Linked DNA regions of Homo sapiens: region 1 is linked to region 2. The links come from fine-mapping of genetic effects on gene expression. A gene starts in region 2. The other region holds a variant in brackets. All regions are shown on one strand. Distances are from middle to middle. Region 1 holds the start of HSD52 (a long non-coding RNA gene). Region 2 holds the start of FGGY-DT (FGGY divergent transcript).

What was found.
Region 1: its variant is fine-mapped to the expression of FGGY-DT in testis (GTEx, PIP above 0.99).

Annotation. Positions count from the first base shown.
Region 1 is chr1:59,143,535-59,148,912 of GRCh38, forward strand. It overlaps HSD52 (a long non-coding RNA gene), which reads right to left and starts at 3,273. Exons shown (of 3, transcript NR_027120.1): 1 at 3,142-3,273. RefSeq lists an enhancer at 3,102-3,161 and a silencer at 3,282-3,431. The variant C/T (reference allele first, on the strand shown) is at 3,129.
Region 2 is chr1:59,293,886-59,299,242 of GRCh38, forward strand. It overlaps FGGY-DT (FGGY divergent transcript), which reads right to left and starts at 2,665. Exons shown (of 2, transcript XR_001738089.2): 1 at 2,484-2,665; 2 at 1-1,879. FGGY (FGGY carbohydrate kinase domain containing) reads left to right here and starts at 3,209. Exons shown (of 16, transcript NM_018291.5): 1 at 3,209-3,265. RefSeq lists silencers at 2,611-3,150, 3,161-3,250 and an enhancer at 4,668-5,357.

The DNA.
Region 1 (5,378 bases), 150 kb before region 2:
TCTCTTCCAAGCAACAATTGTATGAAGGAGGTATCATTATCATCATTGCTTAACAGTTAAGGACACTGAGGCACAGAGATAGTAAGTCACTTCCCCAACACAACTAGTTAAGTATCAGAGCCAGGATTTGAACCCAGTTTCTAGGGCCTATGTGCTTCTTTGCTGTGCTATTCTGCTGCCGTTAAATGAATAATTAAACAATAGTTGTACTGCAGGGTGATGAGAGATATGATGGCAGTCTTTACTGGTTACTGTGGGACACAGAGCGGAGGTGGTAATTGACTTTGGTTGAATGGGTCTAAATGGGTTTTAGGGAGAAGACTCTTTGAAGCTGGATTTTGGAAAATGAGTTTCTTAGGCATCCCGTAAATAAGGAGTGAGGTTTAAAGATGAGGAAATGAGGAGAAGGGCATTCCAAGCAGAGCAACCAGCCTGTGCAAAGTGCACAAGCACCGAGGCATGAAACAGCAGGGACCTAGGCAGGAAACCATTAGTAGTTCTATCAGGCTGTTTTGCAAGGCTAAGAGCTGCCAGGAGGAAAGACATGCTGCCTACTGGGAATAATGCTTAGGAATGTTCCCCTCAGCCTTTATAGAAATATATGGTGTTCAACAGGCTTTTTATCTCTTTTATCATCCTGAATAACCCCAACAAGTAGGAAAGTCAAATATTAAGACTATTCCTATTTTGGGACTAAGAAAACAGCTTGGAGAAGTTAAATGACTGGTCTAAGATTACACCTCCAGTGTGTAGCAGAGGCCAAACTAGATCCTCTGACTCCTAACTTTAATAATCTGGACACACTGGCACACAAAACATTTTGATGAGTGCTGCTAGTACAAAGAAAAATAAGATTGAGTTCTCAGTTTTCTGCTACAAAGGCAATGATGAGGCAGCTCAGATCTGCAAAGGACTGGATATGAAGCCTTGACAGAAAAGTAACCACCAAGATTAATCAACATGAGTGCAGCACTTCACAGCTTGCAAAGCACATTTACATACAGAATCTTAGTTGACATTTATGGAGACACTGTGGCAGATTGTACAAATAATGTTCTTGTTCCCATTTTTCAGATGAACTAGATATACTAATTGATTTGTTTAAGTCACACAGCCTGTAGGTGATAGATTTAAGACTCAAATTCAAGTCTTTCTAATGCCAAATGTATAATACCCATGGGGGCTGTTAATATAATGGCCAATATTTATTGTGTGATTACTATGTGCTAGTTGCTATGTTAAATGCTTACATGCAACATTTCATTTCCCTTCTACAAATATGCCATGAGGTAGATACCTGCTTTAAAATAAAGAAAATTGAAACTCAAAACAGTTAAGTTCCCATAGCTAGGATGACCAGCCAACCACCACTCAAAGCCCCCTGCTTCTAGCACTATGCAATGTTGTCTCCATTGTCTTTAGTCTAGTCCACCCGAACTAAGGAAAAAAATACTTTGAGCTTTTCACAAAACTTGTGTAAAAGCAGGTACATTTGAGGATAAAAAGTTTAACTATTTTATTCAAAACTCTTTATTCCCTTTGTGAATGGTCCAGTGAAAAAGGCCAAGCTTTCCATGTTACCTGCGAGGAAGGCCCAGAGAGGTCATGAGACCTAATCAATAACACACAGCAGCACCAAATTCCTAGTTCAGTGCTCAAAAGTTTAAACCCCAAAAGCCATTCAACTCCTCCTCCCTCCCCTCTGTCTTCTTTATGACCTGGCCTTGTAGGGTAATGGGAATGAGCATGGAAGACAGTCAAGCTGGGATCTGAATCCTGGACATAGAATTTACCAGTTGTAAGCACTTGGACAAGTTGCTCTTTGTGTCTCAGCCTCAGTTTTCATAGCTATAAAATTGTTATATAACATTGTTTTTTTTTTTTCTTTTTTTTTTTTTTTTTGAGACGGAGTCTCGCTGTGTCGCCCAGGCTGGAGTGCAGTGGCGGGATCTCGGCTCACTGCAAGCTCCACCTCCTGGGTTCACGCCATTCTCCTGCCTCAGCCTCCTGAGTAGCTGGGACTACAGGTGCCCGCCACCACGCCTGGCTAATTTTTTGTATTTTTAGTAGAGACGGAGTTTCACCGTGTTAGCCAGGATGGTCTTGATCTCCTGACCTCGTGATCCGCCCATCTCGGCCTCCCAAAGTGCTGAGATTACAGGCGTGAGCCACCACACCCGGCCTATAACATTGTTATATACTATTATTCAACTTGAGGGGGGAATTGAAAAGGTTAAATGAGGTAATGTCCATCATTCTATGTCATTACTTTGTTTTAATTTCTTCCTAGCATTGAACACTACTTATGATTATTTTATTTGTTCATGAGTTTACTGACTTTCTACCTTTGTCTTTCCATAGCTGTTCTCCAAGTGTCTAGAATTGCAGTGATTAGCACAGTGGCCACTAGCCAATGTGGCTATTAAGCATTTGAAATGTTCCTAGCAGGAACTGAGATGTGCTGGAAGTGTAACATACACACAAAGTTTCAAAGACACAGCATTAAAAAAAAAGTAAATGTAAAATATTTTATTGATAATTTTTATATTGATCACATATTGAAATAATATTTAGGGCATATTGGGTTAAATTATTAAAATTACTTTTACCTATGTCTTTTCACTTTCTTTAATGTGGCTGCTAGAAAATTTAAAATGTCGTATGTAGTTAATATTATTGCCATCGACCAGTGCTAGTCATGAACAATGCTGGCACATACTAGGTGCTCAATAAATAGTTGAACGACTGAATATTTTTCTTTGAATGAGTGAGTGGCACAAAAGTGAAAGTATGTGAATAATAGTTTATCTCAAGTAGGCGACCTCCATAGGATAAAGCTGTCTGCTTTAGGTTAATAAACTAATTCTGGTTGAGGTGTTAATAGCTGATAACAGCTTAACTTGTTGGCATGAGTCAAGGTAAGATGTACATTTTAATTGCAACTCTCTAGAAGTCAGATAAAAGTAGGCTTTTTAATTCTACTGTGAGGTCTTCCAGAAGCAAGGTTCCTTTAGATTAAATTAAAAAAAAAAAAAAAAAGAAGAGGAGGGAGGGGACAAATGCTGAGAATGGGGATGGAACAGAGGATGGAGGGAGATGCGGAGAAACTTCAGAGCGGCAGGTGCCTT[C/T]GTTTCCCGTTACCTGCTGAGTCTAGTCCCTTCCAGGGCACACAGTGGGCGCTTAGTAACTGTAGAAAGAAGTCGAACGAAATCGGAAGGGGGAGAGGCAGAGGCCACAATCAAGACACGGAAACGACAGTCAGTCGAGGCAGCAGAGAGGGTTTCACGCGGGCCAGCGGAGGCGCAGGGCAGTTGAGAAGGGAACTTGCCACGGGGCGGAGGGGCCGCGCTCCCCACCAGCGCGGCGCGGGGGCGCTAGGCCAGGGACCGCCGGGCCAGGGACCGCCGGCTGCGAGCAGCGGGAACGGACCTGCCCCGGGTCGCAGCGGTTTTTCCCGGGCGGGGCTGAGGCTGCAGGGAGGCGGGCGTTCCGGCGGAGGGTCACGGCCTCGCCGCCGGGACTTTCCTGGGGTGGAGGTGTGAGCACGTAGGAGCCCTGGCCTTTCCAACTTCCCAGGTCAGACTGGGGCTGGGACCACCCTGCGCGGCCTTGGATGCAGGGAACCAACCCAGTGCTAGTCCGCCCTCGCGGGGACCTGTCCTCTCGCCTGACCTATGAAGTCCGTCCCTGCCTCCAAGGCTCCAACAAAGTCCTTCTTTCCCCCAGAGTAGCAGTTCTCAAACTTGAGTGCATCAGCATCACCCAGAGGCTGTATTCAAACACGTTGCTGGCTCCCTCCACGGTTTCTGATTCTGTGGGTTTAGGGTGGTGATGCTGATTCCTCTGGTCAAAGGACCATCCCTGGAGAGCCACTGCCCTTTAGGTAACGATTTTCCCCTCATTTTTCTTCTGAACTCGGTCAGCACCTTGTTCAGCCTCCCACTGAGCCTGGAACCCTTGACAGCTGGGGAAACAAGTGCGTTGCTGCTAAGCCAGGAGGGCACCTAGGAATCCCAGCTTCCAATCCAGGGCGTTTTCCTCTGCATTCACTGCTTCTTTTACTCTCTTGGGAGCCTATGTGTGGGATCCAGAACAGGGCAGAACCCTGAGTAGTAAACGCTGAACGGGAAGCGAGGTTAGTTAAATCCAACTGCAGGAGAGGAAAAAAGAGTCCTTTTCTTCCGGAGAGGAGAGGGTACACAGAGGATGCCTGTCCACTGACCAAACCTGCCCTGAGCATCACCATTGACGCTTTCGTTCATTCAAAAAACAAAGTTAATTCAGCAGGTGCTCTATGCCAGGCACTGACTTGGTATGGGGGATAATGAAGGAAATAAAACCGAGATCCCTGTCTTTGGAGAACATACTTCCTAATAGGGAGATTAACAGTAAACACAATAAAAGGTAAATCAATGAATATGTTAGAAGGTAGTAACAGTTACAAAAAGAAAAACAAGAGTAGGGTAAAGGAGTGCAATTGGAGTTGCAATTCTAAATAAGATGGGCAGGTAGGCCTTATTGATGAGGTGAGTTAAGATATTAAGCCATAGGATAGCTAGGGGAAGAGCGTTTCCAACAGGGGGAACAGCCAGCGCGAAGGTCCCGAGTCAGGAGCATGCCTGATGTGTTTGAGGCTCATCAAACGGGCCATTGTAACTGGAGTAGGGGCAGGGATGGGGAAGAAGCTGAGTAGGAGATGAGGCCAGAGAGGTAAAAGGGCGGGCAGGAAGATGTTAGAGGTCTGGCCCAGCCATTGTTAAAGGATTGACTTTTACCCTCCAATTTGATTTACTGTTTTGCCCTAATGATTCTTGCCTCGTCCATCTACAAAATCTGCCTCAAAAACAGCCGTTAACCATCCCCTGGCTCACAGCTGGAGCTTGTTTTGAGAATGATACTATTTTCATAAGTTGGTGGGCCCCAACCTCTCAGATTTGGGGCTTGCAAAGGTTGCAATGACCCTTTCTGACCTGCAGATTAGAGAGTTGGTAATTCATATTTGCTTTCAGCATTTTTTTTTAATTTTCTCTCATCATTCCCCATACCTCCTCTGGGTTCTTGTTCCCCTGACGTACCTGCTCCCTGAAGCTTCCCAGATTTCTAGAGCAGCACTGTCCAATCAAAATATGATGTGAGACACATAATTAATTTTAAATTTTCTAGTGGCCACATTTAAAAAAGTAAAAAGAAACAAGTAAATTTAATATTAATTACATATTTGGTTTAACCCAATATACCCAAAATATCATCTCAACGTGTAATCAACATAAAAAATTAACACACTATCATACATATTTTCTTCTATACTGTCTTGAAACCTAGTATGTATTTTACATTTATAGCCCACCTCAATTCAGCCTAGCCACATTTCAAATGTG
Region 2 (5,357 bases):
CCTAGGTGAGGACAGGCATAATTTTGTTTTCCTGCCCAAATATTGCATTTCCCAAGACAACCCTGGCCTGCCACACCCCCATCCTGTGCTATAAAAACCATGAGACCCTAGCAGGTAGACAAACAGGCGGCTGGACGTCGAGAGGAGCACATCAGCGGAGGAACACGCGGGCAGCTGGACGTTGAGAGAACACACTTACGCCAGCAGGCCACCAACTGGCAGAATGACATGGAGTTTGGCTGGGGCAGTGGGAGGAGAGCCTGGGCCGCCAAGCGGCCCGACACCAGGGGAAAACCATCTCCCTTTTGGCTCCTCCACCTGCTGAGAGCTACTTTCACTCCATAAAACCTTGCAATCATTCTCCAAGCCCACGTGTGATCCAATTCTTCTGCTACACCAAGGCAAGAACCCCGAGATACAGAAAGCCCTCTGTCCTTGCAATAAGGCAGGGGTTTAATTGAGCTGGCTAACACAAGCCACCCACGGACGGCTAAACTAAAAGAGCACCCTGCTACATGTGCCCACTGGGGCTTTGGCTGTAAACAGTCACCCCTAGACACTGCCGTGGGGTCAGATCTCCACAGCCTACCTGTCTGTATGCTTCCCTAGAGGTTTGTGCAGTGGGGACTGAAGAAGTGAGTCACACCCACATCGCACGCCCTGTGAAGGGGACAAGGGAACTTTTCCCATTTCATTAGGGGTTGGCAAACTAAGGCTCATGGGCCACATTGTCCATTGCCTGCTTGTGTAAGTAAAGTTTTATTGAAACATAGTCATACCTACTCATTTACTATTGTCTATGGCTGCTTTTACATTACAAAGTTGAGTAGTTGCAACAGAGACTGTATTGCTCACAAAGTCTAAAATATTTACTATCGGTCCTTTACAGAAAAAGTGTCACTCCCTGGAATAAATGAATCAAATGGAAGTAAATGGAAAAAAAAAAAAGGATTCATTCATTCGTAATAGGCAGTGTATCATAACTGAAAAAGATAGTGAAAATTGGTTTCAGACAAACCCAGGTAAGAATCTCACCTTCGCCACTTGGCTGGAAAACTCTGAACAAATTATTTTTACTCTTTGGGCCTGTTTCTGCATCTATCACCTTATAAGGTTGCTGTCTGAGAATTCTACTATACAATGTAATGTATCTGTTAGAGTGTAATATATCTGTTATTAGGTTTGACCTCATACAATAGAAACACAAAATAAAAGTGTCTTACACAGGACAGCAGTTTTTTTCTTTCATGTGGAGGTCTGGAGGGCAGTGGGTATTGATTGGTTCAGTGCCTCCTGCATTAGGAATCCACGCTTCTTTCACTTTGTTGCTTTGCTGTGTGTGGGTTTCATTCCTGAGGTCCTTTCATGGTTCAACACGGCTGCTGGAGCAAATAAAAAATCAAATACACAAAAGCCCAGAGAAAGAGCCATCCACAGAGGCCAGGCAACAAATCCACTTATTCAAGTCTAGCCAAGATGAGACCCCCTTGCCACAGTGCATGAAACCAGCATATTCCACTTATTCCATTCTTGGGGTACGTTGAAACAGATCTGGAAGCAATGTCTTCTGTGTATTAAGCATCTAACACTTTACAAAGCATTTTCATATGTCTTACCACATTTGTTCTTCATAATGTTCTGAAAAGGTAAGATGAATACATCTTATTATTCCTATTGAACACTTGATTCACACAGCTGCTAAGTAACAGATTCCAACGAGTCTATAGCTAGGTCTTTGGGTATGTTGCTGGTAATGAAAAGGTGAACAATCATGGTGCAGAAGAAAGAAAATGAGCCAAACCAGGATCCCTGGTAGAGTTGTAGTGCAAAGACTGGGGTTAATTGTGTGGCCTCAGCCTCACTGGGCTGTTCTCCTCACCTGTAAGACCAAGATAAGAGCACTTATTTACTTCGGGGTTGTTGTGAAGATAGCAGACAATCTTAGTGCACCTGCCACTTAAGATCCGTTCAGTGAAATTATTACCTTTCACAGGTGTGTCTTTGGAAAATCACTTCCCTTTCCTGGATCTCAGTTTTCTTTTCTAGGAAAACAACATGTTTGGACTCAGCGACTGCTAAACTGTCTCCCAAACCTCGAACTCCCTCAGCCTGGGATCCTGCCTTTTATGAAAATAGTTCGGATTGGAGCTCAGGTTGGAATTCTCGCTTTAGTTGCTTGCTAGCTGTGTGTCCCAGTAAAAGCTAAAAATTTCGGATTCCCCACATCTGTAGAATAGGGATACATAACATGCAGCTTATTAGAAAGGGAAGGCATGTGAGAATTAAATTAGGTCCGTGTCCAGTACCCACTAAATTGTAAAAACTTCTCAAAGGCAGGGACCCATCTGTTTTGTAGATTTACAGAATGTCATACGTTGAAGTACGGGGGTTCGCCACGGGATTAGAAAATTTCTGTAGAGTAAGGAACAAGACACAAGGTAAGCATTCAAGAATTGTAACCATGCAATATTCTTATTTCTTACAGTCGCCTACAACAGTCCTGGTGTTTAGTAAACGGTCTGACACACACACCCATCAGGGGCTGCGGAGAGTCCGCCTGGGTAAGCTCCGCAAGGTGAGTCCCCAGAGCCGGGAACTCGCAGCCTGAGCAGACGCAGCGTAGCCGATCTTGGGTCCGCGCTCCTCCCGCCTTGCCCAGCCCTGCCCGCGGTTGGCTAGGCCCCAGGGAACGCTGCAGCCGCGGGGTGGGCAGGCGACGGCCAATCCCACGCCCGGTTCAAAGGGCCAATCAGGCCGCGCTTTACAGGGGCCGCGCTTTACAGGGGCCGCGCTTTACAGGGGCCGCGCTTTACAGGGGCCGCGCTTTACAGGGGCCGCGCTTTACAGGGGCCGCGCTTTACAGGGGCCGCGCTTTACAGGGGCCGCGCCGGCGGGGGCGGGATCGCGCGCAAGGCGGGGCTGTAGCCGCCCCGGGACCGCCCTGCTCAGGCGCCGTGGGGTTCGGCGCGGCTACGTGCAGAATCCGTCTAGCTAAAATGTAATTTCAGATTGGACAAGTACTGTAAGTGACCCTCCTCTCAGTCCCACGTGGGCGCTGGGGGCTTTTGCTGGTGCGCAGGCTCTTAGCGCGCACGCCCAGAAAGAGGCTTCTCCAACCCGGCCCGGCCCTTCCTTCCCCTTTCCCGCAGTCGTTGCCTCCTCCTCCCCTGCCTCCTCCTCCCCTTCCTCCTCCTGGCCGCTTAGTCTCACACCCGCCGGGCCGTTGTTCCCGAGACGTTGTTGAGTCCCCTGTGTCCTCTTCTGGGTGAGGCGTCCGGCCACTTAAGGGAAGGGAAGGGAAGGGTCGGCCTTGACTGCATCCCCAAGGCTGCCTATTAGGTGTCTGGAACCCGTGCTGCTTCCTCTCCGATCAGTGCCCACTTATCTGTATTCAGTACTCTTTCTCTCCTCCCCTTACCCTTGTAGGACATTTTCCTGGCATTTGAGGAGCCTTTAATTCACGTCTGGCTACCGAAGGCATTTTTAGGCTAGTGTTGCTTGTAGATTTAAACGCTTCCAGCACTTGTGATAATGTTTGAGGCACAGCTGAGTTTAGATGAGATAATGCTGTTTGGTTACAGTTATCCTGAGTAGAAAGGCCTAGGGATATCTTTTCATTTTTAGCCGTTTCCTTTTTATTTAAAGATTGACAAGGGGCCGGGCGCGGTGGCTCACGCCTGTAATCCCAGCACTTTGGGAGGCCAAGGCGGGTGGATCACGAGGTCAGGAGATCGAGACCATCCAGGCTAACACGGTGAAACCCCCGTCTCTACTAAAAATACAAAAAATTAGCCGGGCGTGGTGGCGGGCGCCTGCAGTCCCAGCTTCTCGGGAGGCTGAGGCAGGAGAATAGCGTGAACCCAGGAGGCGGAGCTTGCAGTGAGCTGAGATCGTGCCACTGCACTCCAGCCTGGGGGACAGAGCGTCTCAGAAAAAAAAAAAAAAAATTGACAAGGTGCAAAATGGTGAATTTCCCTCATCATGGGCTGTTTTCCACTAAAGCACTTCTGTGTCTTAACACAAATTTCTTCCCCGAAGAGTCAGTCATGACATGACCAAAGTCTGAAAAGCAGTTAATCCTTAGGTTAAATTTTAAAGTATGAGACCAGGAGGGGTGAGGTGCTTATTCTTTTGACTTGTAAATCAGAATGAAAGAAGGGAAAGTCTTTTATTTTGTGGCTGTTATTTAAATGGTAGAGTTTTGCTTTGTATAGTTTTTGCTTGCTTTTCCTCTTTTTTTTCTATGATCCACCACGTGTATGTCCTGATTTTTTTCCTTTTTAACTTGCTTGCTGGATTTTCCAGCCAGATGACTGCCGCTTGGTCTTCTGGGAGTCTCCTGTTAATGGGGCCCTCATGCTTGGCTCTTGACCTGATGGCCACTGGCCTGGCTCTTGGAGGACCTCCTAGTGGGAGGCCCAGAGCACTGTTATTAAGGATGATTGGGGGAACAGATCAGAGGGGGTCAGCTGGGCCTGGAGATCAATTTTGAGGGGGAGGGAGGTTGGGAGCCTGCCTGGCTGGATTTGGAAGTCAAAACATGTGTGCTGGGAGAAGGGCATAACCCCAGAGGGTGGAGAGCCATGTCTTTCTGGATAAAATTAATAAGTTTACTGGGAGGAGGCTGGGCCTTCCAGGCTGTGTTAGTTTTTGTTGTGGGCCTTGGCTTTTCCTGGAATTTGGTTCCCTTTCCCTAACCTTTCACTTATTAGTTTAAATAGTTCCCTTTACCTAACCTTTCACTTATTGATTTAAATAGTTTAAATCACAGTCAATTACCAGCTGGTTTTTAAAATAATTTGAGGTAATGAATCTTGCCCTTAATCTCCTAGCCAGAGTGGAACCCCCTACCTCCACCCCCAGGGGGATTTGAAATGATTATTTTACCAGAACGTGCTACAGAGATCACTTACCTTCTCACCCGCCCACCTTTTTATAATGGAGGGACATAGAATCAACCCAGGTGGTGTCAGAGATCATCCAAATCAGTTCTTCATGTATTCATTTGTTCACTCATCTTGTCCACATACTTTGGGCCCAGAACTGTGGTAGTCTCTGGGAAAGTGCAGATGAGTAAGACTTGGTCTCTGCTTTCAAGCTTTCATCCAGTTTGCTTCAATCCACTTTGATGAGGGAGATTATGTGATAGTGAGATGAGTACATTGAAAAGGTATGCCGAAGACTCCCAGGAGTTGAGAGAAGGGCAAATGGCTCAACATGGGGAAGCCATTTGGGGAGGACTTCCCAGAAGGGAATACTGGAGCCGAGTTCCAAAGCCTAAGTATGAGTGGGCTGGAGAAAGAGCGAGGGATTATATGAACCGGGAACAGCATGTGCAGAACTACACAAGCATGGCA